Homo sapiens: one gene and its partners. The protein of the gene in region 2 purifies or fractionates together with the protein of the main gene of each other region. This does not show direct contact. Each region holds a gene or a part of one and is shown on either strand. Other genes may lie near its edges.

What was found.
Region 1: the proteins of TNFRSF10B (region 2) and CFLAR purify together in Homo sapiens (affinity purification with western blotting, with the first as the bait; 5 studies listed by BioGRID). This does not show direct contact.
Region 3: the proteins of TNFRSF10B (region 2) and LAPTM4B purify together in Homo sapiens (affinity purification with mass spectrometry; 3 studies listed by BioGRID and IntAct, with this or other methods). This does not show direct contact.
Region 4: the proteins of TNFRSF10B (region 2) and FLVCR1 purify together in Homo sapiens (affinity purification with mass spectrometry; 4 studies listed by BioGRID and IntAct, with this or other methods). This does not show direct contact.

Annotation. Positions count from the first base shown.
Region 1 is NC_000002.12:201,154,162-201,161,188, reverse strand, and holds part of CFLAR (CASP8 and FADD-like apoptosis regulator), read right to left. Parts: exon of another isoform or gene 6,782-7,027; intron 3,435-6,781; exon of another isoform or gene 3,397-3,434; intron 758-3,396; coding exon 247-757; intron 1-246. UniProt on the Homo sapiens protein: Apoptosis regulator protein which may function as a crucial link between cell survival and cell death pathways in mammalian cells. Acts as an inhibitor of TNFRSF6 mediated apoptosis.
Region 2 is NC_000008.11:23,059,019-23,066,045, forward strand, and holds part of TNFRSF10B (tumor necrosis factor receptor superfamily member 10B isoform 1 precursor), read right to left. Parts: intron 1-7,027. UniProt on the Homo sapiens protein: Receptor for the cytotoxic ligand TNFSF10/TRAIL. The adapter molecule FADD recruits caspase-8 to the activated receptor.
Region 3 is NC_000008.11:97,813,766-97,820,792, reverse strand, and holds part of LAPTM4B (lysosomal-associated transmembrane protein 4B), read right to left. Parts: intron 5,466-7,027; coding exon 5,392-5,465; intron 4,736-5,391; coding exon 4,613-4,735; intron 1,654-4,612; coding exon 1,555-1,653; intron 1-1,554. UniProt on the Homo sapiens protein: Required for optimal lysosomal function. Blocks EGF-stimulated EGFR intraluminal sorting and degradation.
Region 4 is NC_000001.11:212,854,388-212,861,293, forward strand, and holds the start of FLVCR1 (choline/ethanolamine transporter FLVCR1), read left to right. Parts: upstream 1-3,887; 5' UTR 3,888-4,065; coding exon 4,066-4,803; intron 4,804-6,906.

The DNA of each region.
Region 1 (7,027 bases), on a different chromosome or scaffold from region 2:
TGTTGCCCAGGCTGAAAATTTCTTAATTTTAAAGAAAAGTATTCAAACTACAAACTAACTAACTACAAAGTATTTATAAATCATGCCGGGTCTATACTGTAGTCCTAGGGCAAGCCCAATGCAGGAGGGAAAATCTCTTTTCCTCCCGGAAGAGATGGGCAGCAAATGTGGCACAGTGGTAATTCCCATCCTGGTGGCACGAAAATAAGCAGGTGGTCCGGAACTGACCACCTCCTGGGGGCTCACCTTTCTTGTCTCAGTTTCTGGGAGAGGCACTGCAGGTACAGGGATGGTGAGCTGTGAGACTGCTCCAGCAGGGACATGTCCGCAGTACACAGGCTCCAGAAGAAGTCAGCTTCTCGGTGAACTGTGCACAGCCCTCGCTTCTGAGCCTTGAATTCCACATTCTTCATCGCTGGCCCATCCACCTCCAAGAGGCTGCTGTCCTCCAGCTGGCCCTCTGACACCACATAGTTCTGAATAAAAAACATCTTTGGCTTCCCTGCTAGATAAGGGCATGAATCTCCCATGAACATCCTCCTGATGTGATGCAGGGGGAGCCCTGAGTGAGTCTGATCCACACCATACACACTCTGGGAGCCTCCTCGGCTCACCAGGACACACACAAAGCTGTCGTAGTCTCGGTGCTCGGGCATACAGGCAAATTGGCCAAGAATCTGGGATATACCATGCATACTGAGATGCAAGAATTTCTGGACTTCATAGCCCAGGGAAGTGAAGGTGTCTCGAAGAAGCTCTGGGGAAAACAAAAAACAAACACGGAAAACAACACTGGAGTGAGGAGAGCTCAAGAGGACTGGGTAGGAATCCTAGACATGGTCTAATCTCCATTATGAAAAGCTTCTGCTTTTGTGTCATATTTTGATGTGCCTGAGTCCTGGGCAGTTGGAACAAGAACCACATGAATCATGAAAGATGTGATTTTAGGTCCCTAAATATGGTCTATACCCTGCTATACCACTGTTCCTGCCTGATGCCAGCCACAGGCACAGACTGAGCCCACTCTAGTCCAATCAAACCAAGGGGGGACAAAACCTTTTTTTCTTCAACAATCTTCTTATTGAAGTCCAGACCTCACAATCTTTCTCTCTTCTGAGTGGCTCACTCTGGGAGAAGCCCACCACCACATCATGAAAGTACTCAAGCAGTCCCTCAGAGAGGCCCACATGAAGAACAGGCTTCCTGCCAACAGCTAGCACCAACTTCTCAGTCATGTGAGTGACCACCATAGAAGTGGAGCCTCCAATCCCAATCAAGCATTCAGATGACCCAGCTGACAACTGACCACAACTTCACTAGACTCTGGGCCAGAACAGCCCAGCTAAGCTGCTCCTAAATTCCTCACCCACAGGTGAGGATATAATTAAATTAGTAACTGTGAAGATATAATTAAATTAGTACTGTTGTTTTTAGCCACTAAATTTTGGAGTGATTTGTATACATTTTTAGGTAAATAATTCACCAGGTAAGTCCTTTGACCTTTCCTATCGGTAAAAGGAAAAGGCTTCTTACTTTTCTCCTTTGCTTGGCCCACAACTAAGGATTAAACAATGAATTATTGGCTGGGCGCAGTGGCTCACCTGTAATCCCAGCACTTTGGGAGGCTGAGGCGGGCAGATTACCTGAGGTCAGGAGTTCAAGACCAGCCTAGCCAACATGGCGAAACCCTGTCTCTACTAAAAATACAAAAATTAGTCAGGTGTAGTGGCACGCACCTGTAGTCCCAGCTACTCAGGAGGCTGAGGCAGGAGAATCGCTTGAACCCAGGAGGTGGAGGTTGCAGTGAGCCAACATTGTGACACTGCACTCCAGCCTGGGCAACAGAGTGAGACTCTGTCTCAAAAAAAAAAATTAATTATTATATCATGTAAGAATGAAGAGCTACAAAGGAGGTGCTGATATTCCTAAGTCTATAATCAATAAGCATCATTAACAAGGAAATAGGAGACATGATTCACAGGTTGCAAATAACCCATTAAATAGTGAGGGCAACCAGCCCCAGTGGCTCACATCTGTAATCCTAGCACTTTGGGAGGCCGAGACGGGCAGATCACCTGAGGTCAGGAGTTCGAGACCAGTCTGGCCAATATGGTGAAACCCCGTCTCTACTAAAAATACAAAAATTAGCCAGGCGTGGTGGTGCTCACCTGTAATCCCAGCTACTAGGGAGGCTGAGACAGGAGAATTGCTTGAACCCGGGAGGCAGAGGTTGCAGTGAGCCAAGATTGCGCCACTGCACTCCAGCCTGGGCAACAGAGCAGAACTCCGTCTCAAATTCAAATAATAATAATAATAATAATAATAATAATAATAATGATGAGGGCAAATGCCGTTACAGGATCTCTGGGTAGCTGTTATCAGGACTGTAATTTTGCACAGCCTTTTTGAAGAGCAATTTGGGAGTATCATTAAATTTTAAATGTGTATACCCTTTATAAAAAAAAGAAAACTCTGTGTGGTAGAAGAGGCCTGGACGCACTGTCCCCTAGCCATCTCCTCTGAGGGTGCAGGCTTGTTTCGATACCCAGTGCTGAATCCAGGCTGAACAAGGAGAGAACCTGGACTAGGACTCCAGTTCCATCACTGCTATTCTATTCCAAAGGACTCACACGTCTCTAATCATGGAGTATTTGCTCCTCCAGGGGGCAGAAGCAAACAGGGAAACACCAGACTCAAAGCTCTTTTGTGTACTTATCTCAAGATTGGTTCACTTCCCTCAAAACCTCTCTTCACTGATAAATGTCCTTCCTTATCAAACAAAGTCCTTGAAAGAAAACTTCACCACATTCTCCCTGCCCATGCTGATATGTAAGGCTTGGACAGAACAAATGCTGTACTGTGCCTTCCAGCTCTTTCCTTTATTTGTGCTCCCTGGAGGTTCTGGCTGGGGAAGCCCCTGTCACATGACTGTGAGCAGACAGCTGTGTGGTGCAGGGCAAAAGAGGAACCAGCCTTGGAATCACAAGATGTGGGTTTAAGTCCTAGTTCCTCCATCTCCTCCTACTAGGGTCTGAATCTTGCATGGTCTTGGAAGAGACTGAGCTATAACAGCAGAGAAGCTAGGAAGGAAATGGGAATCTGAGGTCTGGGGCAGAAAATCCTTACCTAAAAGAACAGAAGAAAAATGGCTAAAGCTGGAGGTGAAGCCAAAAACCATGCAGGTCCCAAGTGCCAATAAGAATAGCAGGTCTGAGCCTCAGACAAGACACAGCATTGCTTAAATATCCTGTGGCAAGGGAGTCACTCCACAGGCCCAGCCTGAAGACATTACCGCTGACATTTCCCATTAACGTCACAATTTTCCTCTATGAGGTGGTGAGGTGGAGTGGGAAGGGCTGTTAGCTGGCACTTGCAACTTTATTGCGCCAGCAAGAACATGCATACAGCCCAGTCTAACGTACAGGATCAAAAAGGTAATGACAGTGTGACTTTGAGTCAGTTTGAGTCAGCCCCAGTTTATTCATCTATAAAACAAGATTAAAACTAATGCTTGGCCAGGTGCAGTGGCTCACACCTACAATCCCAGCACTTTGGGAGGCTGAGGTGGGAGGATGGCTTGAGCTCAGGAGTTTGAGACCACCCTGGGCATCACAGGGAACCCCGTCTCTACAAAAAATAAAAAAACTAGCCAGGCATGGTAGTACAAGCCTGTAGTCATCACAGCTACTCAGGAGGCTGAGGCAGGAGGATCTCTTGAGCAGGAGGTTCTTCAAAAGGTGACTGTGAGGGCAGGGTACAGTGGCTCATACCTGTAATCCCAGCACTTTGGGAGGCCAAGGCGGGTGGATTGCTTGAGCTGCAGAGTTTGAGACCAGCCTGGGCAACATGGCGAAACCCCATCTCTACCAAAAATACAAAAATTGGCTGGGCATGGTGGCACGCATCTGTGGTCCCAGCTACTTGGGAGGCTAAGGAAGGAGGATCACTCGAGCCCAGGAAGTGGAGGAGCCAAGATCGCTCCACTGCACTCCAGCCTGGGTGAAAGAGTGAGACTCTGTCTCAGAAAAAAGGTGACCGTGAGGATCCAATGAGATTTCTGTAAAGATGCTTTGCAAACTGTGTTTATTCAAATATAAGATATTGACTTTAAAGGAAATAAAGGCAGCCATTTCAAAGTACAAATCACCAACCTTATGGTGTTGCACATCTCTCATGGAATCTCTCTCTTAGGACCTGGAGGGAGGTCTCTATATTCTAAACTAAAATGGGCTCAGAGCAGACAGAGTCCATATCCTATGTAGGTAGGACAGTAACTGTTTTGTCCTTGCACATAAATAGAGGAAGAAAAACTTGGGGGCTGGGTTTGGAAAATAAAATTTCAACAAACTACAGAAGACCCACTTCTCCTTCTAGAACCCACCCTGGAAATCCCACACTCAACCCAGTCTGATCTCCGTAAATTTCAACTGTTCTTTAGAACTTCTGGAAATGATGTGGGGGGGTGGGGAGGGGAAGGGCAGGGGTTCTTCTGGCCTTGCAGTTAGTACAGGGCTGTTCATTCAAGGCTAGGGTCAGCACTACTCACAGGTTTGAGGACTTCACAGATAAACCAAAAAAACCAAAATACAGTAAAATGTCATGACTTCATTAATTTAGAATTTGTTTTGATCTAAATGAGGATACATTTATCTTGACAATTTCTATGAAAAGGGCTTCATTAAATAAATGTATAAAATAAACAAGAATGAGGGAATGCTTCACCAGTTAATTTACAATCACATATTGAGTACCTTTAATAAGCCCAGTGTTAACTGCTATAGAGCACATGGGTAAAACATAAGATGGGCAAAACATTCTTAGTGAAAAAGGGAGTTCTGAGGTCAAACGTGTTTGGGAAATGCAAGGTGGACAAGGCTAAAATAGGTTTCTTCGCAGGAAGAATTCTCAGAGCCTTTAATAGGTCAATATGCATTGCAAATCTCTGAGGGGGAAGAGATTAGGCAGCGCTTCTCAAATTTACTTGACCGGAAAACTCTTGTTTTACAAAGTTCCCCTTATTGCCTACAGAAACACTTGGACAAGAGAATACATATCAAATATATGATGTACTTCAATCAAAGAGCTTATAATCTTGTTGGGGAAGCAAAGCTTATAAATACGCATAAAACAAAGATTACGTGGTGGCTCATGGCCATAATCCCAGTGCTTTGGGAGGCCAAGGCAGGAAGATCACTTGAAGCCAGGAGTTCAAGACCGCCCTGGGAAATACAGCAAAAGACCCTGTCTCTATAAAAAACAAAGTTAGCCAGACATGATAGCATGTGCCTGTAGTCCCAGCCACTCAGGAGGCTGAAGTGGGAGGATTGCTTCAGCCCAGAAGTTTGAGACCAGCCTGGGCAACATAGTGAGACCCTGTCTCTACAGAATATTTTAAAAATTAGATGGATGTGGTGGCGCCTGTGTGTAGTTCCAGCTACTTGGGAGGGTGAGGTGAGAGGATTGCTTGAGCCCGGGAGGTGAAGGCTGCAGTGAGCCATGATTGTACCCCTGTGCTCCATTCTGGGTGATAGAGCAAGACCCTGTCTCAAAAAAGAAAAGGAAAGTACAGAAAAATGTTCAAGCTTTTCAGAAAGAGCAGGATAGAAAAAAAAAATACTTCCTCTTGGCCAGGTGCGATGGCTCATCCCCGTGATCCCAGCACTTTGGGAGGCCGAGGCGGGCGGATCACCTGAGGTCAGGAGTTCAAGACTAGCCTGGCCAACATGGTGAAACCCCATCTCTACAAAAATACAAAAATTAGCCGGGCATGATGGCGGGTGCCTGTAATCCCAGCTACTCAGGAGGCTGAGGCGGAGAATCGCTTGAACCCGGGAGACAGAGGTTGCAGTGAGCCAAGATAACGCCATTGCACTCCAGTAGCCTGGGTGACAGAGCGAGACTCTGTCTCAAAAAAAAAAAAAACTTCCTCTTAAAATCTGCAAACATCGTCTTTTATTTTTATTCAAGGGCCTTAAAAACAACCAGAGCTTTAGGCCAAGCCGTAAAGCCCATCTGTCAGAGATGTGAGACGCTTGCTTCTATATTCCTAACAAGATAAAAGTCCAGTGCTTAAAGATGACCCACCAGGGCCTAGCACAGGTCCAGCTTTGCTGTCACTGACACAGATGACACAACACCAAAGACTTATTTTTCAATTCTACCAAACTGAGATAATTAGTTCCCAAATCCCTGAGCATTTACTTCTGCCTCAAGAAGAGGTTACTGAACTCCATAAGAATTCTTCTCAAGAAAGAACTACCAAAGAATAACCTTATTTCATGCACAACACAGCTCTGAGATCAGACTCCACCTCATTGCCTTAATATTTGCTTCACACAGGGCCAAGCATGGTGCTTTGCACATAGTAGGCCCTCAACGAACATTTACTGGACAAACAAAGAAATAAAGCTTTAAATACTTGGGGGACTTGCATGCTTTTTGGATAAAAGTCTGGTTTTTTGAGGAGAGAAGGGAAGATAGGTAGAAGAGAGTCTGCTAAACTCTAAAGATAAAAAGGAATGGCTTTTAGAAACACACTGACACTGGGAGAGCTTATTCCTTCATTCATTCACCCAACAATTATTTATTGAACACCTACATAGCAGGTATTCTTCCAGGTACTGGAGACCCATAGTAGGAGATAGATAAACTCCCTCACCTTCATGGAAATTATATTGAGGCAAAGTAGTTAAAAGCATAGGTTTTGGAGTCCAGCTTTTGAATCCCAGCTCAATCAGTACTAGAGAAGGTAGGAGTGTAGTTCACTGCTCAGCTTCCTCACCTTGAAAATGGAGAGAATAAGCCAGGCATGATGGCTGACGCCTGTAATCGTAGCACTTTGGGAGGCTGAGGTGGGCAGATCACAAGGTCAGGAGATCGAGACCAGCCTGGCCGACATGGTGAAACCTTGTCTCTACTAAAAATACAAAATTAGCTGGGCATGGTGGCACATGCCTGTAATCCCAGTTACTCAGGAGGCTGAGGCAGGAGAATCGCTTGAACCTGGGAGGTGGAGATTGCGGTGAGC
Region 2 (7,027 bases):
CTTACAACCGCTGGCATCCAACATTCTACTGTTGGTTTTTATGAATTTGACTACATTAGGTACCTCAAGTGGAATCCTATTTCATTTGTCCTTTTATGAATGGCATTTTACTGAGCATGTCTTTAATGTTCATCCATTGTGTAGCATGTGCCAGTATTTCCTTCCTTTTCAAGGCTGAGTAATACTCCATTGTATGAATATACCACATTATCTATTGATCTGTCCAACTTGAGTTTCTTCCACTTTTTGGCTATTGTGAATAATACTGCTATAAACGTGGGTGTACAAATATCTGTTTGAAACCATGCTTTCAATTCTTTTGGACGTATACCTAGAAGTGGGAATGATGGATCATCTGCTAATCCTGTTTTTACTTTTGAGGAACTATCATACTGTTTTCCATAGTGGCTGCACCATTTTACATTCCCATTAACAGGGCACGAGGGTTCCAACTTCTCTACAAATTTGCTAATGCTTATTGTGTGTGTGTGTTGTTTTTGTTTTTTGAGACAGAGTCTCGTTCTGTCGCCCAGGCTGGAGTGCAGTGGTGCCATCTCAGCTCACTGCAAGCTCCGCCTCCTGGGTTCACGCCATTCTCCTGCCTCATCCTCCCAAGTAGCTGGGACTACAGGCGCCTGCCACCACGCCGGGCTAATTTTTTTGTATTTTTTTTTTAGTGGAGACGGGGTCTCACCATGTTAGCCAGGATGGTCTCAATCTCCTGACCTCGTGATCCGCCTGCCTTGGCCTCCCAAAGTGTGGGGATTACAGGCATGAGCCACCGCACCCGGCCTGTGTGTGTTTTTTATAATAGTCATCCTGATGGGTATAGGATGGTATCTCTGTCGTTTTGACCAGCAGTTCCCTAATGATTAGTGATTAAAGTATCTTTTCATATACTTATTGACCATTTGTATATTTGCTTTGGAGAAATGTTTATAAAAATCAGTTGCCCATTTTTAACTGGGTTGTTTTTGTTTTGTTAGATCGTAGGAATTCTTTATATATTTTAGATATTAAGCCCTTATCAGATATATAACTTAAAATATTTTCTCTCATTCTGTGGGTTTTGCCTTTTTATCCAGTTAATAGTATCTTTTGATTCACAAGAGTTACTGATTTTCAAGAAGTCCAAAATGTTTATTTTTTCTTTTGTTGCCTATGTCCATGGTGTCACATCCAAGAAATTATTGCCAAATCCAATGTCACAGAATTTTTATCCTATATTTTCTTTCAAGAGTTCTATAGCTTTAGCACTTACATTTACATCTTTTATTTGTTTTTAGCTATTTTTTAAATACAATGTTAGGCTAAGGTTCACTTCATTCTTTTGAATGTGGATATCCGGTTCTCCTAGCCCCCTTCATTGAAAAGACGGCCCTTTCCTCCATTCAACAGTCTTGGCATCCTTGTGAAAAATAATTTGGCCATATATGTGAGTGTTTATTTCTGGCTCCTCTATTCTATTCCACTGATCGATTTATCTGCTTTTATGTCAGTACCATCCTGTTTTGATTACTGCAGCTTTGTAGGAAGTTTTGAAAATCAGGAAGTGTGAATCCTACTACATTTTTATTCATTTTCAAGATTGTTTTGGATATTCTGGTCCCTAGAAATTCCATATGAATTTTAGGATACATTTTTTCATTTCTGCAAAAATGTCCTTGGGATTTTGATAGAGATTACATTGAATGTATAGATCACTTTAGGAAATGTTGACATAATTAGTCTTATAATTCATAATCATGGCATATCTTTCCATTTATTTTTGTATTCTTTAATTACTTTCAGTAATGTTTTATAGTTTTCATTGTACTAGTCTTCCACCTCCTTGGTGAGTTTACTCCTATTTTATTATTTTTGATACTATTGTAAATGGATTTTTTCCTAATTTCTTTTTTTGAATTGTTCATTGGTAGTGTATAGAAATGCAATTGACTTTTCCAGTTGATTTTGTATTCCGCTTCTTTGATGAATTCATTTTAGTACTACTAAATAAAAATTAAAAACACAGTTTAGATATACCCCACGGCAATTACCCATAACCATGTAGCCAAAACTTAAGACATCCTGATATCCCTGAAACATTAGCTATAATCATAAAAAATCCCACAAAATATAAGTTTTACACCTTCATCATGACATAATATGGTTCAGTGAAGTTAAATCAAGCAGCTATAGAAAAATCAGCTTAAACAGCTCTGATTGCCTTTAAAAAGAATATAAATTTATAAGTCAATCATGAAATTGTCAAAATACATCCTCCTTTATAGCCTGTACTATACCTGCTGTAAGGCAAGTTTCTTACCACTTGGTTTGAAATCTCCCAGATTGCAATCTGTACTGTCTTTTACTGAACAACAATAAATTTCAAAATTTTAAAAATTTAATATTATTTTATTTTTGGCAGTTTAATTTTTTGTGAAATCTTTTGGATTTTTTACCAGTAAGATCATATCATCTGAAAACACAGATTATTTTACTTTTTCCTTTACAGTCCAGATGCTCTTATTTCTTTTTCTTGCCTGTTTTGGCTAGAACTTCCAGTACTATGCTGAGTGGCAAAGGTGGGTAGATATCCTTATGTTGTTCTTAATCTTAAAGGAAAAGCTTTCCGTCTTTCAACACTGAGTATGATGTTAGCTGTGGGGTTTTCTTACATGGCTTTTATGATGTTGTGGAAGTTTTCTTCTATTCTTAGTTTGCTGGGTGTTTTCATCATGAAAGGGCTTTGAATTTTATCAGAGGCTTTCCCTGTATCAACTCAGATGATCATGTGTCTTTTTCCCCCTTCATTCTATTAATGCAATGTATTACATTGTTCAGTTTTCATTTGTTCAAACATTCTTGCATTCCGGAAATAAATCCAACTTGGTCATGGTGTATAATCCATCTAAGGTACTGTTGAATTCTCTCTGATAGTATTTTGTTGAAGATTTTTGCATCAGTTAGGGATACTGGGATATAGCTTTATTTTCTTGTAATATCTTTATCTGCTTGGGTATCAGAGCAATGCTGGCCTTACAGAAAGAGTCAAGAAAGGTTCCCTTCTCTTCAAGTTTTTGAAAGAGTTTGAGAAGTAGTGGTATTAGCTCTTCATTAAAAGCTTGTTAGAATTCACTAGTGAATTCTGTCAGTTTAATTAATAGTATTGAAGAATCAATGTTGGTTTTGTGGATTTTCTCTATGGTTTTTCTTTTTTCTTTTTCTTTCTTTCTTTGAGACAGAGTCTCACTCTGTTGCCCAGGCTGGAGTGCAGTGATGTGATCTTGGCTCACTGCAACCTACATCTCCGGGGCTCAAGTGATCCTCCCACCTCAGCCTCCCGAGTAACTGGGATCACAGGTGTGCTCCCCCGGGCCAGGCTGCTTTTTATATTTTTTGTAGAGACAGGGTTTTGCCATATCCAGGCTGGTCTCAAACTCCTGGCTTCAAGCAATCCTCCTGTCTTGGCCTCGCAAAGTGCTGGGATTATAGGCGTGAGCCATCACATCCGGCCTCTACTGTTTTTCTATTCTCTGTTTTATTTATTTCTCTTCTAATAATTATTTCCTTTATAATGCTAACTCTAGGTTTGGTTCATTCTTTTTCTAATTCCTACATTTGTAAACTTAGCTCGTTGATTTAAGATCCTTCTTCTTTTTTAATTAAACCATTTCTGGCTATAAATATCATAGATGGAATCAGATACTATATATGCTTTTCTGTCTGGTTTCTTTAACTCAGCATAATTATTTTGAAATTCGGTCATATTTTCATATGCATCAGTACTCCATTCCTTTTCATTACTGAGTTGTATGGCAGAATTAATATGGTAATATTATAAAATGTAGGAGACTTGAAATAATACAGATTGATTCATCTCCACTACTCATTCTTTCTGCTATAGTTGTCTCAGGCATGTTCATATGTTACAAACCCTACAAAGTGTTATATTACTTGATAGTGAATATTTTCAAGAAATTAAGAGGAAATAATCATTCTTTATATGTGCATTCATATTTCTATTCCTGATGATCTTCCTTCTTTCCTTAAGATCCATGTTCCCAGCCAGGCAAGGTGGCTCATGCCTGTAATCCCAGCACTTTGGGAGGCCAAGGCGGTGGATCTCCTGAGGTCAGTAGTTTGAGACTGGCCTGGCCAACATGGTGAAACCCGGTCTCTACTAAAAATACAAAAATTAGCTGGGTGTGGTGGCAAGCGCCTGTAATCCCAGCTGTTCAGGAGGCTGAGGCAGGAGAATCGCTTGAACCCAGGAGGCAGAGGTTGCAGTGAGCCGAGATTGCGCCATTGCACTCCAGCCTGGGCAGCAACAGTGAAACTGTCTCAAAAAAAAAAAAAAAAATCCATGTTTCCATTTCATTTCATCTCTATTCAGATTGAAATCTTTTAGCATTTTGTGTACTGCAGGTCTATGAGCAATGACGTGCCCATACTGTCTCCAATAGCACATTCAGGTTCCTAATTCTTAAAGCCATTTATGCCCATTTACTCTTTCTTATTTGGTAATGACCTCACCCAAGTCTCAGATTAGAAACACTAGAATCCACCACAAACCTCTTTCCTCTTCTTACCAAACCCATTGCATCACCGGCCTGCGTTATCATCATTTCCCTCAGATCTGCCTCAGCTGCCACTTGCCTCCTTCACGATAATGCAACCTGACCCTCACCCTAACCACTAGGACCCATCCCGAATGCTGTCCAGGCCACACCTGAGTGCACCCACCTAGTCCACTCTCCACTGGGTGAACAATGATCTTTAATGGGTGGATCTGATGAGGGATGTCCCCGGGGAAAACTTGACAATGGCCTTGGTGACTCTGGACTTGGGTGATCCTCCGTACTCTATTCAGATCCTCTGTTCTGTCCTCAGCCTGCCTGCCACACTCCCCACCTCTCACGTTTAACACACTCTATGAGCAGGCTGAGGACACAACGTCTGGGTTAGTGCAGCTTCCTAGAATCCACGTTACTCATTCATTCATTCATGGAAGGCATGTAGGCGCCTGGCGACCGCATATGCAAGGAGCCGTGGAGTATCGGGAACATGGCACGGCCCTTCCTTTCCTTAGCACAGTTTCCATTCACAGGAGCTGAGGCACAGCCATCATTAACCCCAAAGTCCATGAACTTGCAAAGAGTCTGGAGGGGCTGCCCAGGCAGAGGTGACAAATGCCATCGGTGGCAGGGACAGTAGTGGACATAGAGGAAAGAGTGCACACAGACAGAATCCCAGACAGACAGGAATCCAGTGTAATGGGGGAGGGGAGTAAAAACAAGAGAGGTACTGCTGAATTAATATTGTAATATGATTACAAAATGTAGGAGAGTTGAAATAATATAGATCCATTCATCACCATTCACTCTTTCTGCTGTGCAGGACGAGGCTGTGCCGTCCGTGGGCCTCTCTGATTGAGGGAGAATGGGCGTGTGGCCAGAGATGCACAGCTGTGTTGGGCCACAGAAATGGGCTCATGGGGGTGTCCATGGGCATGGTTAAGAGAGAGAAGGAAAACAAGAAGAAGGGAGGTCAGGGGTTTGGCTTATTTCAGTTCTTGTCCCATTGAATTCTAGGGACCCTGCCTCCTCCCGGACATGAGCCATTGGCGGGGTTTCCCTGTCTTGTGACTCACCCACCTGTGATTCAGGCTCCTTGCTTTACACCAAGTTTGAGCATAAAACCTGCTAATATTTCTCGTCAAAAATTAACCCGAGTAACCTCTTCTTTCCTCTCTGAGTCACCCACATCCTTAAAACTGCCCAGGATAATCACAGTTCCTGCATAGGTTGTTGTGTGAACTGAAAGTGTTAATATGTATGGAAAGTGCTTAAAACACAGAACTTTAAACACATGCTCTGATTAGTACGATCATTACCCTCAATGTTGATTTTAAGCAAACCATATTATCCTGGCCAAACTACCATGACCTGGAGCCTTGGGACTGCACAGCCTCCCTCTGTCAGTCAAATATGGAGGGATGACATCTCTGGAGCCAGCACAGCCACTCTGGAGGTGGGGGAGGTGACAGTGGTGGGACCTCATGCTTCCTGATAGTTATTTAGGTCCCTGCTGTCACCTGCTCCACCAGACTGTGGGCTCCAGGGAGTAGTCAGTATTCACACAGGGCTCATTTGTCCTTCCCCAACCCAGGCACAGATTTTCCCAGAGTAAAGGGTTCCTCCTCTACCTGATGAATGAATCACTCCTGTCCCCGCCGCCAAGCACATGCAGTGAGACTAGCTGTGGCCTCAGCTCACTGCGTAAGGACAGCCTCCAGCTACAGCAGGGGCAGAGGACCCTGTAGAGCTCTGTAGTCTCTGTTGAGAACCACAGGCAGGAACTCCCAGAGGCCAAGTGCAGGGCAGAGACTGGGAGAAGCAGCTGCCTGGAGGACTCTGGATCCTTGCAGAAGACATGTCCAGTGTCTGCTGAGACTGACTCTAGGTGCCTGAGAAGAAGCCACCCAGGGAAGGAGAGACTAGATTGTGGACCACTCAGGGCTGGGAGATCTGCATGTTCCCCTTCCCACAGTGGACAGAACGCATGCCAGGGTGCTGGCGAGTTACCATCAGAAGTCAACCACTATAACTTTAGTAGTTAACTAAATGAGCCCCTGAATAAGGCAACTGAACACAAGGTATATAGTTATATGTAGATAAAAGCTAGTATCAGAGGAGCAAACTGATCCTCAGTTTTCTGTGACCAGAATAATGCCCAATAGACTTTGAAAGAACACAGTGATGTTCGGTACCCAAGAAAGCAAAATTCACAATGTCAAGCAATAAGAAATTACTATGCATGAAAAAAAAAGTCCCTATGGGCAGGAAAAAAAATGTAATCAACAGAAACAGTGGCCGTAATAACAGATATAATGGTGTTGATAGATTAAATAACTTAAAACAGGTCATCTAAAGCTTACAAATATACTCAAGAATATTTAAAAAACAGAAAAACAAAAAACACCACCACCAAAATCATAGGTTGCGCACGGTGGCTCAGGCCTGTAATCCCAATACTTTGGGAG
Region 3 (7,027 bases), about 75 Mb from region 2:
CGCACCTCTGCACTCCAGCCTAGGTGACAGAGTGAGACTCTGTCTCAACAACAACAACAACAAGACGGGGTCTCACTCTGTCACCCAGGCTGAAGTACAGTGCTGCTATCATAGCACACTACAGCCTCACACTCCCAGCTCAAACAATCTTCTCACTTCAGCCTCCCAAAGTGTTGGGATCACAGGTGTGAGCCATTTCACCTGGCCAACTGGTTTCCAATGAACCACTTTCTTTCTACTCCTTTTCATCACAGTACCTATATGAATTTTCTGCCTCAATGCAGCTTTCCCAAGTTTACTGAGGCATGATTTTTGAAGAATGACATAATTTTATGCCAAAATTAAGACAATGAAAGGCATTGAGATTCAAAAATTCAAAGTATGCTGGGTGCAGTGGTTCACACCTGTAATCCCAAAACTTTGGGAAACCAAGGCAGGAGGCAGCCTAGACTACAGGGAGAGACCCTACCTCAAAAAAAAAAAAAAAAGAAAGAAAGAAAAATAAATAAAAAAAGAAAAAAGTTGAAAGCATAAAGAGCCATGAGAGTTTTCTACCCATTAGTAGCTCATAAGCACAAGTTATAATGATGGTTTTATAAACAGATTGACCAAGATGAAAAAGAATTTGCAGCAATTGATTGATAAGGGTGAGGCACTGCTGCAGGAAGTAGAAGTCATTTAACTTTGGGGGACATCAATTTGACAACCTATCAAAGGCTTTCCAACCATGAACACCCTGATTTTAAGAAATTTATCTTGAAGCCGGGCACAGTGGCTCATGCCTGTAATCCCAGCTTTGGGAGGCCGAGGTGGGCGGATCATGAGGTCAGGAGATCGAGACCATCCTGGCTAACACAGTGAAACCCCATCTCTACTAAAAATACAAAAAAATTTGCTGGGCATGGTGGCGGGTATCTGTGGTCCCACCTACTGGGGAGGCTGAGGCAAGATAATGGCGTGAAGCCGGGAGGCGAAGCTCGCAGTAAGCCGAGGTTGCGCCACTGCACTCCAACCTGGGCGACAGAGCGAGACTCCATCTCAAAAAAAAAAAAAAAAAAAAAAAAAGGAAATTTATCTTGAGATAAATGCATAAATATAAGGATGTACTTAAATATATTCACTACAGCCCTATTAAGTGAAAAAGTAAAAAATGTCTCAATGCTCATCAAGTAATTTATTAAATAATGATATTCATATAATGGATTGAGATAGAACAATATTCAGAAAATATTACACTTTTAGCAAAAAATTACAAAAGAATATCCATTACACAGACCTTGTAACAGACGTTGCAATATCATATACTATGTAATGTATAACATTATGTTAACTTATCTCTGTCCAAATATATTTTGGACTCCTTGATCAAACTGTGGAATTTTGATTAGTGTTTACCTCCAACATAGACAGCATAAAGAATTGTAATCTTAGGAAATCAAAAAGCAATTTGGATGTCCAAAGAAAGACAATAAACTGACCAAAGTTTGTTTACTTATTTGGTATTCAGGAATACACTTAATATTTTTAGACTATAAGTAAAATCTTCATGCTTACCTTAAAAGTCAAGATAATGCTAATAAACAGAAGAATAATAAGGACCAAACAGGTAGGATTCACTGACATGACATCATCTCTGTAGGGAAAATTAGGAGGCTGCAAAAGAAAAGGGCCTCATTAGCAAATCTCATTAATCATTCCAGACAGTATTCCTTGGGCACCAATTCAGACATGCTTATCAGAAAGCAACTGATTAAAGCAGACAGCTATTATTTAGAACCAATACAAAATTTCTAGCCTGACTCTGCCCTCTTACCATATAAAAGACGTCAGTGATCGGTATCCAGGGACATTTTGTATATCCAGGGATCTCTGAAATTTGTATTCTCTGCAAGTTCTGAACCATTCCTTTTTTTTTTTTTTTTCTTTTTTGAGATGGAGTTTCTCTCTGTCGCCCAGCTCAGCTACTTGGGAGGCTGGGGTGAGCAAATCACTTGAGCCCTGGTGGTGGAGGTTGCAGTGAGCGAGATCATGCCACTGCACTCCAGCCGCCCGGGCGACAGAGCCAGACCATGTCTCAAAAGTTCTGAACCATTCTAAAGGGCATATGCAGGGCAAGGGACAGAAACCTACTAAAATGAGGTCTTCTTTGCAAAGAGCATTTTTGTTGATGGTACTTCTCCCAAGACAGCATATTCTCTTATACTAGCAAGTACTTCCAGGGTGGGGGGAAATAATCAAGCACTACCATCCACAATGCTTAACAACCAGGTCAAAGGGAACCTTTTCAGGAGGATCAAAGTCTGCTACTATGGTTAGAGGGAGTTGCCGGACTTTCCCCACAGAACACTCACACAGCATTGATCAACGCCTACATCACTGGCCTAGGCAAGTGAATGGGAAGGCAGCCTACTGTGCTATCTCATCTTTTATCTCCCTTCACCATTCAACACTATGTGTTTGGATTCCTCACGAGCAATATTCCAAAACAAAGTTGTTTCCAATGTTGAGGAAGAACATGGAGAAGGCCCATGACTCATGGGCTTGGCTCCTGCTCACCAGGGTGAACACCACCTAATGGTTTTCAGTCTCCTTTCACTTGGGACAAAATATCTAAGAAATAAAATCGTCATTCTTTGTGATCAGATCATGCAACTTTACTCTTTTATTAATAAAATAACTTGGCCAAGCACAGTGGCTCATGCCTGTAATTTCAGCACTTTGGGAGGCTGAGGCAGGCAGATTGCTTGAGTGCAGGTGTTTGAGACCAGCCTGGACAACATAGTCAAACCCCATCTCTACTAAAAATACAAATTTAGCCGGGCATGGTGGTGCATGTCTGTAGTCCAAACTACTTGGGAGGCTAAGGTGGAAGGATCACTTGAGCCCAGAAGATTGAGGTTGCAGGCTGGGCATGGTGGCTCACGCCTGTAATCTCAGCACTTTGGGAGGCCAAGGTGGGCGGATCACCTGAGGTCAGGAGTTCGAGACCAGCCTGGTCAACATGGCAAAACCCCACCTCTACTAAAAAAAAAATACAAAAATTAGCCAGGCATGGTAGTGGGCGCCTGTATTCCTAGCACTCTGGGAGGCCGATGAGGGTGGATCCTCTGAGGCTAAATGTTTGAGACCAGCCTGGAAAAGATGGTGAAACCCCATCTCTACTAAAAATACAAAAAATTAGCCAGGCTTGGTAGCGGGTGCCTGTAATCCCAGCTACTCAGGAGACTGAGGCAGGAGAATGGCTTGAACCCAGGGAGGCGGAGGTTGCAGTGAGCCGAGATCACAACACTGCACTCCAGCCTAGGTGATAGAGTGAGACTCTGTCTCAAAAAAAAAAAAAAAAAAAAGTAAAGTTGGCCTGGTACAGTGAGTCACATCTATAATGCCAGCACTTTGGGAGGCCAAGGCTGGAGGATCACTTGAGTCTAGGAGTTTGAGACAAGCCTGGGCAACATGGTGAAACCCCATCTCTACATAAGATACAAAAAGAAAAATTAGGTGGGCATGGTGGTGCATGCCTATAGTGCCAGCTACTCAAGAGGTTGAGATGGGAGGATCACGGGAGCCTGGGAGGTCAACGCTGCAGCAAGCCATAATCACACCACTGCACTCCAGCCTGGGTGACAGAGACCCTGTCCCAAAAATAAATAAAGTTATTCCAACCTCATAGCCATTATAAGCTTCTTAATACCCTGCCACCAATATTCACTCATATGGTCACAAAGGACATTTAACCGTAAACTAGTCCCAAAATGATGCTTGAGAAAGGGATTCTATGGTCAAACAAATTTGGGAGCTAGTATACAGCAGTGTTCCACTTTCTTTCCACTTTCTTTTGATTTTTCTTTTTTTTTAGATGAGATCTCACTCTATTGCCCAGGCTGGAGTGCAGTGGCGTGATCTTGGCTCACTGCAGCCTCCACCTCCCAGGTTCAAGCAATTCTCCTGCCTCAGCCTCCCGAGTGGCTAGGGTCACAGGCGTGTGCCACCTCTCCCAGCTAATTATTTTGTTTGTTTTTGAGCAGAGTCCCACTTTCAACACACTAGCAAAGGCAAAAAGCTATCCTTTGTTGATAACTGAGAAAACTACATTTTACCAAATACGACTATTAGTAACTGGACTATAATTTAGGTAGGCACATCAACCACCACCATCACTGCCACCAATCATAACCCCGGCCCTCAAAACTTTATCAGGCCAGGCACAGTGGCTCACACCCATAATCCCAGCACTTTGGGAGGCCAAGATGGGTGGATCACCTGAGGTCAGGAGTTCAAGACCAGCCTGACCAACACAGTGAAACCCCATCTCTACTAAAAATACAAAATTAGCCAGGTATGTTGGTACATGCCTATAATCCCAGCTAGCTGGGAGGCTGAGACCCTGGAGGCAGAGGTTGCAGTGAGCCGAGATCGCATCACTGCACTCCAGCCTGGGTGACGAGAGCAAGACTCCACCTCAAAAAAAAGAAAAAAGAAATTTCCTATGAGTAACTCAGCTGCAAGCTAAAAATCCTGAAATTAATGTCTGTGTATCTCTACACATCCCTTACTTAACCAGCTTCCCTAATGAAAAGAATTAATGAAAAGGAGCAGTAAGAGGTCCACGTACCAGTTGCCGTATGTATTCCTGAATGGAGTTTGGATAAATAAGCACAGTGATTGCAACCAACATGTTCAGGGCAAAGTCAAAGATCTGGTAACAGAAGAATGGGATGATCCAGGCTGCGCGTTGCTAAACAGAACAGAAAATAGAAAGTTAATGTGTTCAATATTATAAAACAATATTTTTCTTAAATTCAAAGTATTTTATTAATCTGAAAGGAAATGGAAAAATTGGAATTCATTAACCCAGGTCATGGTGGAAACCAGTATGCCAAATATAAGCAGTCAACAAATAAGCTTCAGTGAACATTTCCAGGACTGGCTGTGTGTGGTGTCTCACACCTGTAATCCCAGCATTTTGGGAGGCTGAGGTGGGTGGATCACTTAAGGTCAGGAGTTCGAGACTAGCCTGCCCAACATGGTGAAATCACGTCTCTACTAAAAAATACAAAAATCAGCAAGGTGTGGTGGCACACACCTGTAGTCCCAGCTACTCTGGAGGCTGAGGTGGGAGAATCACTTGAACTTGGGAGGCGGAGATTGCAGTGAGCTAAGATCACACCACTCTACTCCAGCCTGTGTGACAGAGTGAGACCCCGTCTTCCCAAAAAAAAAAAAATTTCCAGTATAATATTGGTTTTCCTAGTACCACATAATACAAACGAGAGATTTAAACAGAGATTCTTAACAGAAAACTGGAAAGTCACTTCTCACTATAGACAGCAGCACAGATTACACATGTAAGAGACCAAGGAAAAGGCCAGCATCTTACTGCAAGCGGCTTACCTTGTACGCTCCGTAAGTAGCCATAGCACATATCAGGATCATGAGAAGAGAAATCGCAATGGCAATGCACATGTCTGCCGAAAGATTAAAAAGAATTTCTTTAAAAAAGACAATCAGTAGTGGATCCACTGAATACTTTCAGTCTCTTCTCAAAGGCATTTTGTAAATAAACTAGCATAAAGTTAGTAAATACTTTATACTAAGAGATTATTTCAAAATAGAAAAAGGGATATTGGTTTACAGATTTTTTTAATGTTTGTTCTTCTGGTCCACTGGATTATATAAATAATGAATTAGGTATTACTTTATAGATATATAGGTGTCTAACTTCTATTTTGTAAACTCATGTGTGCCTCAAAGCTCTAATGAAAGCCTTCATAGCTTCCGATCTTATTTAAAATAAAAACTCCGGCCAGGTGCGGTGGCTCACACCTATAATCCCAACACTTTGGGAGGCCGAGGAGGGCGATCACGAGGTCAGGAGATTGAGACCATCCTGGTTAACACAGTGAAACCCCATGTGTACTAAAAATACAAAAAATTAGCCGGGCGTGGTGGTGGGCACCTGCTGACCCAGCTACTTGGGAGGCTGAGGCAGAAGAATGGCATGAACCTGGGAGACAGAGCTTGCAGTGAGCCGAGATCGCGCCACTGCACTCCGGTCTGGGCGATAGAGCGAGACTCCATCTCAAAAAAATAAATAAATAAAAATAAAACCTTCATTTCTTATCAAGGCCTTGATGTTCCTCTTTATTCCAGAGCAGTCTACCTCTCTAATCTCGCCTCACCTTGTCCCACTCTCTTGCTTGCTCTAAGACAGCCATATCATCTGGTTCATTCTATTTTATTTATTTTTTCTTTTTTCTTTTTATTTTTTTGAGACAGAGTCTCACTCTGTCGCCCAGGCTGGAATGCAGTGGGACAACATTGGCTCAATGCAAATTCCGCATCCCAGGCTCAAGCAAGTCTCCCAGGCTCAAGCAAGTCTCCCACCTCACCCCCTAGGTACCTGAGACTACAGGTGTGCTCCACCATGCCAATTTTTATATTTTTAGTAGAGACGGGGGTTTCACCATGTTGGCCAGGCTGGTCTCGAACTCCTGACTTCAAATGATCTGCCAGCCTCGGCCTCCCAAAGTTCTGGGATTACAGGCGTGAGCCACCATGCCTGGCCTTCAACTTCTTTTTTCCTTTAGTCAATCTCTGGTAAATAAGGAGTCTTGTTTGGTCTCCCAATCTGGAGTTGCAGTGGTGTGATCATGGCTCATTGCAGCTTCAATTGCCTGGGCATTGTCACTATGGGATTATAGGCATAAGTCACCGCACCCGGACAAAAATATCTTAAACCAACTTGGCAGGTACACAACTGCTTGTAGCACCATTATTTGCTACGGGTAATAAATATTTTATAAATATTCTTTTATACCTACTCAATATTTAATAAGAAATAATTTTATAAAAATGAACCCCAAACTATTGGTTTTTTTAAACTGCTTTTCCTAGATCTGGCAGAACAAATTATTGTCAATGAGAAAAATAATATTGGTTTTCATTGTACATGCAACTTCTCTAAAAGCTTTGCATTTTTTCGACAGAGATCTAGAGGGGAAAACATAATCTGCATACTAAATCTCTA
Region 4 (6,906 bases), on a different chromosome or scaffold from region 2:
GACTTTTTTTGTTTTTGTTTTTGTTTTTGTTTTTTTCTGAGACGGAGTCTCGCTCTATCGCCCAGGCTGGAGTGCAGTGGCGCGATCTCGGCTCACTGCAAGCTCCACCTCCTGGGTTTACGCTATTCTCCTGCCTCAGCCTCTCGAGTAGCTGGGACTACAGGCGCCCACCACCATGCCCGGCTAATATTTTGTATTTTTAGTAGAGATGGGCTTCACCGTGTTAGCCAGGATGGTCTTGATCTCCTGACCTCGTGATCCACCCGCCTCGGCCTCCTAAAGTGCTGGGATTACAGGCGTAAGCCACTGCACCTGGCCAAGATTTTTTTTTTTTAAGAAACAGATTTCACGTGGTGGTGGGCGCCTTAATCCCAGCTACTTGAGAGGCTGAGGAGGGAGAATCGCTTGAACCCCGGAAACAGAGGTTGCAGTGAGCCGAGATCGCATCACTGCACTCCAGCCTGGGTGACAAGAGCGAAACTCCGTCTCAAAAAAAAAAAAAAAATAATAATAATAATTTAAAAAAAGATTTCCTTCCTTCTCTCCTCCCTCCTTTTTTCCTTCCTTCCTTTCTTTTTCTCTCTTTCTTTCTTTCTCTCTCTCTTCTTTCTTTGTCTCTTTCCTTTCTTTTCTTTCTAATTTGGCACACAAACACTTTATTTAAATGCATATCTCAATTCCTGTGCGGCTGGCAAATAAAATAAAGGAGCAGATCATGGCACAGCATTCTCATGGACCAAGTGGTCGAACCCAACATCCAAGACCCAGTGAGCAGCCAAGCTCAGTGCAACCTCCAGGCCTCTCGCTCTGACTCCAACAGGGTGAGCACATAGCCCTTGCGCATGGGGTCTTTTACACTGTGGATGATGGAGTGGCTTGTGTCTTCCATAAATTCCCGCATGCACTGTCCCTGAGAGCTGGTTCTGCCCAGGACCTTGGTGACCCTGGCTAGCTAGATAGGCTGCACATGGCTGGTGTCTGTGATGGCGATGCAGCAGCAGTTGGGCAGAGAGAAGAAATAGATTTCTTTACAAAGCAAGTAATTATTTAAAATATTCACGGTAATTCAGTATTCATTAGCTGTACTCAGTAAATATTTATTGAACAGCTACTATGTGCTAGGTACTCGCACAAAGTACACTGGTTACAAATTCTTGAAAAATAGTAGCGGTAGCAAAAAGCAACAAAACTTTCAGCCCTGCCCTTATGGAACTCACATTCTAGTGGGCAGGGAGAAAATAACCAGAAAAAGGCCCAGCACAATGGCTCATGCCTGTAATCCTAGCACTTTGGGAGGCCGAAGTGAGCTGATCAGTTGAGACCAGTCTGAGCAATGTGGCAAAACCCCATCTCTACAAAAAATACAAAAAGTACTCAGGCTTGGTGGTCAGCCGAGAGAGAGAGAGAGAAGGAAAGAAAGAGAGAGAGAAAGAAAGAAAAGAAAGAAAGAGGCCAGGCTCGGTGGCTCAGGCCTGTAATCCCAGCACTTTGCGAGGCTGAGGCGGGCGGATCACGAGGTCAGGAGTTCAAGACCAGCCTGGCCAATATGGTGAAACCCTGTCTCCACTAAAGAAAAATACAAAAATTAGCCAGGCATGATGGCGCGGGCCTGTAGTTCCAGTTACTCGGGAGGCTGAGGCAGAAGAATCGCTTGAACCTGGGAGGTGGAGGTTGCAGTGAGCCGAGATCGCGCCACTGCACTCCAGCCTGGGTGACAGAGCAAGACTGTCAAAAAAAAAAAGAAAGAAAGAAAATAACCAGAAAAAAAAAGTAAAAATATAGGACATTTTAGGTGAAGGTAAGCACTAGGAAAGAAAGAAAAAAAAAAGCAGGGAAGGGATGTTGGCCGGGGCGGGCGGAGGGGGGGATTTATACAGTTTGGCCAAGGAAGACATTATAATAATGCACTTATTCCTTAGTTTAGAACATGTAGCATTTCACCTGTACCGAGAGATGCCTGATATATTTCATACATGACCAAAATAATAATGTAAGAGGCAATAAAAAAGTGCAGGGTTTTAGGGTTCTAGATATCAGCACATTTTAAGATTAAATGCATGGTAAGAACTTTTGTACTATATACACCTAGTTTGAACTTAAATTTAATAACAAACTCTTTGGAGTCTCTCTCTCTCTCTTTTTTTTTTTTTCCCAAACATAGCTTCCCAAGGAGCAGAAGGGCTGAATTTTCTCTAGTTCCAGGAAGACCGCAAGGCTACTGTGCTCTGGATGTCTCGTTTTTATTTTTTTATTTTTTTATTCTCCAGATCTCAAGACGGTGTCTGGCACATACCATTCAATACAAGTTTGGTACCTGGAACCCACTGAATATGCATGTCCAGTAACTATTAACTACATGTGTTGGTGCAAGGGAGAAGGTCGAGCAACCGGATCTGCTCCATCATAGCCCGTCTCAGTCGCTTCATTCAAGTCAGCGGGGTGAGGTTGAGGGGATTCCAACTTCACAAGGGCAGATTTCTCATGGACTCTCTTTCTCTGGTTGTACTGGAACACTTTCTGGCGTTATTCCTCTGCTGGGACAGCATGAACTTATGAAACGTGGTCCTGTCTGCCCTAAAGCCAGGGTCTCACCGACAAGGACAGCGATGCTGGGGCGAGAAATAAAGTTCGTCCTGGGCCTGCGTACGGTACAGCGCCCTTGGGAAGCCCTTGTGGAGTTAAGGGTGATGCCCACTTCTTTGTCTCCCTCATTCTGTTTCGGTGGCTCTCTCGTTCCCAGTTCCAAGCTGCCCACTTGTTAGAGGAGCCACTGCTTACCAGGCATCTGGTTTAATAAAACATGGCTAGAGCGACTGCATGTTAAAGTGAGTAACTAGGCACTCACAAGGCACCTATAAGGTTAATGCTAAAGGTCTGAAAATAGCCGCATTCTAAGCTGACCAACAATTATAATTACACAATATTTATGGCCATACAGGACATCTCCCACCAAGTCTGCGGAATTGTCCAGATGTCCTGAGTTTTTTTTTTTTTTTTAGACAAGGTCTCACTTTGTCGCCCAGGCTAGGCTGGAGGGCAGTGTGGTGCGATCTCAGCTCACTGCAACCTCCGCCTCCCAGGTTCAAGTAGTTCTCCTGCCTCAGCCTCCTGAGTAGCTGGGACTACAGGCATGCACCACCACGCCTGGCTACTGGCTTTTTTTTTTTTTTTTTTTTTTTTAAATAGATGGCATCTCAGTATGTTGCCCAGGCTGGTCTCGAACTCCTGGGCTCAAGGGAGACTCCTGTCCGGCCTCCCACAGTGCTGGGATTACAGACGTGGCCACCGAGCCCGGCCCAGCCCTCTACTCAGAGATAACGTCAATGCGCAGGCTTAGGTTGAAGGATTAATGGTCATTAGTGCACCAACAGCCCCTACCTTTAGTGGGCACATCAGCACATTCCACGATTAATCACAGCTCCTCACAGCTGCCTCTAAGTAGTGACACTACCGAAGGACGGGAGTTCCTCCTCCTGCAGTCTGAGGACTTGCACTCTCTAACGGAGTAGATTCCAATAAACTTGCTTCCTTCACTGCGCTCTGTGACTCGCCTCCAATTCTTCCCTGAAGTAGACCCAAGAACCCTCTCTTGGGGTCTGGATCGAGACCCCTTTTTCCAGCAACACAACCCGCGGGGCCGCCTCCCGCCCACCCTCAGGTGCAGGAGACCCCGGGCCATGCATCCTTCCGGGCAGGAAAATGTCAGCCAGCGCTCGCCGGCCGCTTTCCTCCCCCGCCTCCCGAAGTTCTCGCCCGGTAGCTCCCCGACTGGCTCTCGCGCCGGACAAAGGCGCACGCTGATTGGCCGGAGGGCCGTAGTCATGCAGGACGCGCGACTCTAGGGGCGGGACCAGACAAGGGGTGACTGCCGCGCGGCGCGGGGGAGGAGACCTTCATCTGTTCACGCGGTAGCGCGGATTGCGGTTCGCGGCGCGCGCCACCGGGGAAGGAGCGGTGGGCCGAGGGGTTGGAGGTGGGGCCCCAGGAGGACCTCGGGCTGTGGGCCGGGAGAGCGGAGTCGGGGAGTGGGGCGGGGGAGCGAGGTGGCGCCGGGGAGCCTGGGATATGGCGCGGCCAGACGATGAGGAGGGGGCGGCGGTGGCGCCCGGACACCCGCTCGCGAAAGGATACCTCCCGTTGCCGAGGGGCGCGCCCGTTGGGAAGGAGAGCGTGGAGCTGCAGAACGGGCCCAAAGCGGGCACCTTCCCGGTGAATGGGGCCCCCCGGGACAGCCTCGCTGCCGCCTCGGGAGTTCTGGGCGGGCCTCAGACTCCACTGGCCCCAGAAGAGGAGACCCAGGCCCGGCTGCTGCCTGCGGGCGCGGGAGCTGAGACCCCGGGGGCCGAGAGCAGCCCGCTGCCCCTTACGGCGCTCTCCCCGCGGCGCTTCGTGGTGCTCCTGATCTTCAGCCTGTACTCGCTGGTCAACGCCTTTCAGTGGATCCAGTACAGCATCATTAGCAACGTCTTCGAGGGCTTCTACGGTGTCACCTTGCTGCACATCGACTGGCTGTCCATGGTGTACATGCTGGCCTACGTGCCCCTCATCTTCCCGGCCACCTGGCTGCTGGACACCAGAGGCCTGCGGCTCACCGCCCTGCTGGGCTCCGGCCTCAACTGCCTGGGTGCCTGGATCAAGTGCGGCAGTGTGCAGCAGCATCTCTTCTGGGTCACCATGTTGGGCCAGTGCTTGTGCTCGGTGGCCCAGGTGTTCATCCTGGGCTTGCCCTCCCGCATCGCCTCAGTGTGGTTTGGGCCCAAAGAGGTGTCCACAGCTTGTGCCACCGCCGTGCTGGGCAATCAGGTAAGTACTGGAGTGGTAGGTGAAAGTCAGATCCTTAAAAGACCGGAAAAAGTCATAGGCCGTGAGAACTATGGCCTGTATGGATGAACTGCCCCAGGAGGTATTTGTCTATAAAAGAGGAGATGAAGCCGTTGAATAGGAGGCCGTCTTGGATTGAAGTGGGCTATAAATTTCTTTGTAAGGACAAAATTTTCCAAACGACCTTGTCATCTTGCTTTGAAAATTACCTATAAAATAATTAACTGGGCCGGGCGCGGTGGCACACACCTGTAATCCCAGCACTTTGGGAGGCCGAGGTGGGTGGATCACTTCAAGTCAGGAGTTCCAGACCAGCCTGGGCAACATGGGGAAACCCCGTCTCTGTTAAAAATACAGAAATTAGCCAGGCCTGCTTGCGGGTATCTGTAGTCCCAGCAACTCAGGAGGCTGAGGCAGGAGAATCTCTTGAACCCGGGAGGTGGAGGTTGCAGTGAGCGGAGATTGCACCTTTGCACTCCAGCTTGGGTGACAGAGTGAGACTCTGTCTCAAATAATAATAATAAACTGTAACCATAATAATAATAATAATAATTAACTGTATTGGCTTGTGTATGCCTAACATGGAAAATTTGTCAATGCAGTAACGAACAAGACTTGGGGTATTATTTTTGTCACCAGTGTATTTGTGAAAGGAAGGTATTGGGTTCTGGGAAGATTGTTTCCATTTTGAGAGGTCATTGTGAACAGCTCCCTTTTAATTTCATATATTAGCAGTCAGCACAGTTCCTGGCACATAAGGGACACATAAATGACTGCTAACCAAAAGTTCTGGGCTGGGCGTGGTGGCTCACGCCTGTAATCTCAGCACTTTGGGAGGCTGAGGCAGGCGGATCACTTGAGGCCAGGAGTCTGAGACCAGCCTGGCCAACATGGCAAAACCAAATACACAAAAATTAGTGGGGCATGGTGTGGTGCATGCCTGTAATTCCAGCTACTCAGGTGGCCAAGGCATGAGAATCTACATGCTTATTGCTTTATAGTCATTTCCCTTATCTAAAAGTACAGAAGATGGAGTAGGTTGAACTATAGTTGTTTGTCCAAAATAATTTATGACTGATACTTGAGTTGGTTGCATCTGCAGGTTTGGACAGAAGCTATTATAAAGTTTTTTGTGTGTGTGGTTTTTTTTTTTTTTTTTTGTAGAAATGGGGTTTCTCCATGTTGCTCATGCTTGTCTCGAACTGCTGAGCTCAAGCTCTCTGCCCACCTCTGCCTCCCGAAGTGCTGGGATTACAGGTGTGAACCACCACGCCCGGCCATGATTACATTTTCTTTGTCACACATCTCTCAGTTTAAATTCATTTTTAAATATTCAGTAGCATTTCTTGATCCCATTTAGAGTTGCCCAGTCACTCTCTTTACATTATTTTACTTTAATTCTCCTTATAGCACTCATCCCTGTCTCATATGTTATTGTTTACATGTTCATATGTTACTTACCTATTACTTTTCTCTTATCCCCACCATTAGATTGTAAGTTTCATGAAAATAGGAATGTGGTCTGAATGTACACAGCTGTATCACCAGCATTTATTACTCTCCATAAAACCATGTTGAATAAATAAAGGAGCTTCAGACTCATACAGATACTGGCCAGCTGGATAGTCTACTTGGATATCTCATGGGAACACACCACTCAAAATTGCTTTCTCCTTGCTCATTTCCCTTTATCTCTAATGCCACTGTCTTGGTTTGGGCCACCCACAGCTCTCACCTAGAGCTTGCTAACTGTCCTCCCTATCTGTAGCCCTTGCTGTCTTCCCTCTGTTCTCGCATTCATCCAGCGTGGTCTTTTACAATGTGCAAATCTGTTCCGGGCACATCCTTACCCCCTGCAGTGGCTTCCATTGTCCTTAGGATAAAATTCAAACACTCTAGTGTGACATATGGGACCCTCCAGATCTGCCTCCTGCCAGCCCTTCCACTTTATCTGTATGCACAACCCCTGTCCCCACAGACATATGCTTTCTCTGCTCTGTGCAGAACTATGCCTACTTATAGTTTCTCACAAGGTCGTGCCCTTTCCCTCCTGGCCTTGTATGTAATGTCCTGTTGGCTTGGAAT